Linked DNA regions of Homo sapiens: region 1 is linked to region 2. The links come from fine-mapping of genetic effects on gene expression. A gene starts in region 2. The other region holds a variant in brackets. All regions are shown on one strand. Distances are between the middles of the regions.

Region 1 (2,906 bases), 290 kb after region 2:
AGGGGGTTCTGGGGCCTGACAACAGGTAGGTGCTCAGCTGGTGCCCTCCAAACAGGTGACTGCATCACTTCCCTTTTGACAGGGTTTTACTCCACCCCCAGCCTCTAGCCCAGTGCTTCTCACCTAAGGATCTTGTTAAAATGTGTATTCTGATTTTTAGGGCTGGGGGCTGAGGCTCCTTGTTTCCAACAAGCTCCTAGGTGATGGATGCTGCTGGCAGGTGCACCACACTGAGTTGCAAGACTCGTCCCTCCAGGCACCCCCTTCACAGGTTCAGCATCCTCGCTGCCATCTCCTCACAAATGCGGTGAGTCTTGGCTTCATCGCCTTTCATGACAGGAATGTCACTCTCTTTAGGGTGAGGCTCCTTTACTATACAATTCCTAGCACTCAAATCCTTCTTCCTTCATGAAACTGAGCTCCATCTCCTGGGAGCCTTCAGGGATTGCAAAGGTCAGGGTCTCTGGATTTGCTCTCCTCCTGGCTGACAGCAACAGTTCCTGCAGTGGGTCTGGGAATGTCTCATTTGTGCATTCAAAAGTTGGTGAGAAGCTGGGTGTGGTGGCTCACGCTTGTAATCCCAGCACTTTGGTAGGCTGAGGTGGACAGATCACCTGGGGTCAGGAATTCGAGACCAGCCGGGCCAACATGGCGAAACCCTGTCTCTACTAAAAATATAAAAATTAGCCAGGCATGGTGGCATGCACCTGTAATCCCAGCCACTCGGGAGGCTGAGGCAAGAGAATTGCTTGAACTCAGGAGGTGGAGGTTGCAGTGAGCCAAGATCGTGCCACTGCATTCCAGCCTGGGCGACAGAGTGAGATTCTGTTTCAAAAAAAAAAGTTTTTGAGGTGCCCCTAACGTGTGGTAAGGACTACATGCAACACTCCAGGGAAGTGTGGCCCGGGAAGGTGCAGTGAGGCAATCGTCTCCCTTAATCTATACACCATACTCCTACTGATAAAGCCTAAGACCGAACTAAATTTCTTTAGCAGCTCCCTCACTTTGCTGGCCCATATTTTCCTTATGGTCACCTAAGGACACCGGCACTTTACCCTCACTAGTTCCTATCTTATAACAGTCTTAATAAGTGACAATTCTGTGACACAACAATCCTAAAGGATGCAATTTATTTTTTAAGTTTTTTTGTTTCCATAGGTTTTTAGGGAACAGGTGAAGTATTTGGTGACATGAGTAAGTTCCTTAGTGGTGATTTGTGAGATTTTGGTGCACTCATCGCCCAAGCAGTATACCCTGAACTCAGTTTGTAGTCTTTTATCCCTCACCCGCCTTCCCACCCTTTCCCCTTGAGTCCCCAAAGTCCATTGAGTCATTCTTATGCCTTTGCATCCTCATAGCTTAGCTCCCACTTATGGCTGAGAACATAGGATGTTTGGTTTTCCATTCCTGAGTTACTTCACTTAGAATAATAGTCTCCAATCCCATCCAGGTTGCTGCGAATGCCATTAATTAATTCGTTTTTATGGCTGGGTAGTATTCCATAGTATATA[T/AT]AAACCACAGTTTCTTTATCCACTAGATTGATGGGCATTTGGGCTGGTTCCACGTTTTAGCAATTGGGAATTGTGCTGCTATAAACATGCATTATTAGCTGCCACCAAACTCCGGTGTGCAAGTATCTTTTTCGTATAATGACTTCTTTCCTAAAGGATGCAATTTGTGCTCCGTAAGAGGAGTCCTTCCTTTTTTCCCCCTGACCATGTGCAGACTTAGAGGTCCTGCAGTTTCCTTGCTGGCTGGCCCATGGGCGTATTCTCTTAGCTGGCTCAATACTCCTTCTGCATTTTTGTCCTGCCTGTCCCCCTACAGCCCACTGCAGTTCAAGAACTACAGACAAATTCATTGCCTCTTTGTCTCCCTTGCCCTTCTAGAACCAGCTGTAGCAGGAGAAGTTTTTTTTTAAAATTTATTTTTGAGATGGGATCTCAGTCTGTCACCCAGGTTGGAGTGCAGTGGTGTGATCTTGGCTCACTGCAACCTCCGCCTCCCAAGCTCAAATGATCCTCCCACCTCAGCCTCCTGAGTAGCTGGGACCACAGGCACACACCACCACACCCGGCTAATTTTTTTTTCTTTTTTGTATTTTTTTTTAATAGAGACAGGGTTTCTCCATGTTGCCCATGCTCGTCTCGAACTCCTGAGCTCAGGCAATCCACCTGCCTCGGCCTCCCAAAGTGCTGGGATTACAGGCATGAGCCACAGTGCCCAGCCTTAGGAGGAGGTTTAAATTGGGAAGCCTGATACAAATGCTGTCCTGTCTTGACAAGGAGTCACTTCAGTACCCAGGCCTTGAAGAACTGTTCCCCAAAAACCTATATGCCATGCAGTGCGTCCTACAGAGAAGGAGCAGGAGGAGGTGGAGCAGATTACAGCACTTCATTCATGCATTCAGTCACTCAGTCAATACACACATGTTAGGTACCCTTGCTTGCATGGCGCTGCTATAGCTGCTGGGGAAGCAGGAGAGAGGAAGACAGACAAAGCTCCTGTCCTCATGGACTAATGGTGTCATTAAGGGGCAGTGGGGAGGGGCAGACAAAAAAAAAAACAAATAGAGGTAGAAGGGAAGAAGCCAGGGAGGAAGATGGGGACAGGGTGTTGCTCCAGGCAGCATAGTACAGTGGTTAAGGACCTGAACTCTGAAGCCAGAATACCTGTGTTCAAACCTGAACTCTGGCTGTGTGGCCCTGGGCAAGTTACCAGCTCTGTGCCTCCATTTTCTCACTCCCCAGCTTTTATAAAGTACCTGTGCAGTGCCTGGCACGTAGTGAGTACTTCCCATTAAGTGAGGTGATCCAGAGAGTCATCTTTGAAGAGGCGATATTCAAGGTTGAATAGGAGCCAGCCATGGACAGACCAGGAGAAAGGGAAACAGCAAGTGCAAAGGG
Region 2 (2,906 bases):
TGTGAGAGTGATCAAAAGGAATGAAAGGTGGTTTGAGTCCCTAGTAAAAAGGAGAATACGGGGGATGAGCAGATTGGGGAAGGAAGAAATTGTGATTTAGTTTGAATATATTGAGTTTGAGATGTCTATTAGATATCTTCATGAAGATAATGAGGAAGCAGAAGACTATATGGTCCTGGAGTTTAGTGGAGAAGACAGGGCTGGAAATACACATTTGGGAGCCATCAGCACATAGGTGGTATCTAAAGCCATGAGATTGGGTGACAGCATGCAGGAAATGAGGGTAGATTGAGAAGAGGTCTCCCACCACCCTGCCAGGATCCAGCCATATGTAAGTTCTAGGAGCTCTGTGATACTGGGAGGAAACCCCAGCCAGGAACAGAGGCAGAGTGCCTCCCCCCACACTCCCAAAATCCACGATGTAAAAGCTTAGGCCTTCTCCCAGCCACTGCTCCTACTTTCTTACCTTGGGGGTAGTATGGCATTCAAGATTTCTTCTGCCTGCTTTGTAGGATCTGGGACACAGGGAGTTGAGGGGAGCTTGGTCTTGGGTGGCTGTGGGGCTGAACCTGAAGGTCCAGGCTGCTGGGGGCTGACTTTCAGTAGCCGAGCCTGAGATGAAGGCACAGGTGAGGGCAGGAAATTGTTCAGGAGCTCAGCTCCACACATCCCCAACCTGTATATTGCTCCAGGTCTTCTGCACAGCCCTCCCCTCTTCCTAGCCTACTTTGGGTCGGTCTTCTCAGCAGAAATTATGTCACAGAGCTGAAGGAGGCCATGAAGTCTGGCCCCAACTCAATGCTTGAACAGGTGTTTCTGGCGCATGTGCTTTCACACCTCTGGTGATGGGGAAATCACTACCTAGTCATCTGTTCTTGGACCCGCGTACCATTAAGAAGAGTGAGCCCCATCCATCTCCCTGTGACCTCCTTCCCCATCCTAAATCTGCCCTCTGGGGTCACACCCAACATCTGGGCTTCCTATACAATCCTCTCACCCTCCTTCTCTGACTTCCCAATTCCCTTTACTCCCAGTCGCTGCAATCCCCGTCCCTTGAGATTCCTGACCCTCCATGCGGGAATGTGTCTTTCCCTATCGGAGTTTCGAGGCTCCTTTGTCTCCCGAGCCCCCGTCTTTACCTTGGGGCTCCGTTTCTCCGTGTTCCGGCTCACCAGCACTGGGGTGTCGTACTTGAGCAAAGAGTCTGCGGGCGGAATCATGGCGGAGGCGAGAGTAGCAACCCAGCAGCTGCCCTGTCCAGTGTGGGCCTTGTTTGCCGTCACCATGGAAACCGCCCCCTCACTCCCGCCCCCGCGCTTCTTGGCCTGGGCGGAGCTTCGAAGTGGGGCGGGGCCAACAGCCGGCAAGTTTCATTCTGTGCCTCCTGGGCAGAAACCTCTTGTGCCTGACTTCTTAGGCCTTCTGCTCACCGGTTCGTCCCTGTACTCTTGGAGGCGAGGAAAACGGCAGTTCGAGTCCCTATGCTCCGTCTAGCTAGCGATTTGAAGTGGGCAGATCACCTTTGCCATGCTCCAATTTTGTCACCTGAAAAACAGGAGTCATCTCCTGACTTCTCATGAAGGGTTAAGGGACAATTCCCAAAGGAAGTCATCTGGAGTTCCTAGGTTTTTTGAAGGTTTTTTTTGTTGTTGTAGTTGTTCCCAAAATGTGTTCATTGAGATTGTTTCCCACTCATCTTGATTCAGAGTGCTTTTAGTGCTGCTTCCTCCTGAAGGAACATCCTTCTGTAAGCCTTACTTTTCCTCCTGTAGGCTGGCAGAGGACAGTGGAGCAGCCAACACACAAAACTGCCGTTTGTGCATGGCTAAAGACTGTGGTGATTTTATAGCATCCTGGGCATTTCACATCCATGAAGTAGGAATTGGGGCTCTGCACCAGGCGTTTCTTCTTGTGTTTCCTCTTCTCCTCTTCTGGGGAGGGATGAAGGAGATCCTTTGCGAGAGGCATGTTCTCGTGGGTAGGTCGTCACCGCAAGAAAGGGCTTGTTTTGATTTTTAAATTGAGACGGAGTCTCTCTCTGTTGCCCAGGCTGAAGTGCAGTGGCGTGATCTCGGCTCACTGCAACCTCCGCCTCCCGGGTTCAAACGATTCTCCTGCTTCAGCCTTCTGAGTAGCTGGGACTACAGGCGCGTGCCCCCATGCCCGGCTAAATTTTGTATTTTTAGTAGAGACGGGGTTTCACCACGTTGGCCAGGCTGGTCTCGAACTCCTGACCTCGTGGTCCGCCTGCCTCGGCCTCCCAAAGTGCTGGGATTACAGGCGTGAGCCACCGCGCCCAGCCTGAAGTATTTTTCTAATTAAATGGAGAAATGACAAAGTAGGAGCCAATGGGAAACCTCCCCTTTGCCCCCTGAAGATTCGCTCAAAAATCAATTCACAAAAGGCAGATTAATTGGAGAAAAGGCATACAAATGTATTTAAAATGTATACACGGGGAGAATCACAGTATGATTACCCACCCCGAAAAGGGTTCAGAAGCTTATATACCCTCCTGGTAAAACAGGTTTGTGAGGGTGGGAGAAGGAGGAATTCTGTTCAGGGATTACTAGGCAGAATGAATGAATAAGGGAACAGAGATAAATTTGTAAATAGTTTTTTGTGTTTTTTTTTTTGTTTTGGTTTGGTTTTTTTGAAGACAGGGTCTCACTCTGTAGCCCTGGCTGGAGTGCAGTGGTGCCATCACGGCTCACTGCAGCCTCCAACTCCTGGGCTCAAGCGATCCTCCTGTCTCTGCTGGGACCACAGGCACGAGCCACTAGCCCCTGCCAAATTTAATTTTTTTGTAGAGACAGTCTTGCTATGTTAGGCAGTTTGGTCTCAAACTCCTGGCTTCAAGCGATTTTCCTGCCTTGGCCTCCCAAAGCGCCGGAATTACAGGCTGCAGC

What was found. PIP is the estimated chance that this variant, and not a neighbour inherited with it, causes the effect. A credible set is the group of variants that fine-mapping cannot tell apart.
Region 1: its variant is the best candidate, but not a certain one, in a credible set for the expression of DNALI1 in minor salivary gland (GTEx, PIP 0.89).

What each region holds. Positions count from the first base shown.
Region 1 is chr1:37,267,857-37,270,762 of GRCh38, reverse strand. No RefSeq gene overlaps it. Among named protein-coding and RNA genes, the nearest start is that of MIR4255, 110 kb to the right of the region's middle. The variant T/AT (reference allele first, on the strand shown) is at 1,512.
Region 2 is chr1:37,555,309-37,558,214 of GRCh38, reverse strand. DNALI1 (dynein axonemal light intermediate chain 1) reads right to left here and starts at 1,275. Exons shown (of 6, transcript NM_003462.5): 1 at 1,140-1,275; 2 at 467-612. The coding sequence starts at 1,220. It also overlaps the pseudogene RPS27P9. RefSeq lists enhancers at 1,193-1,487, 1,698-2,668.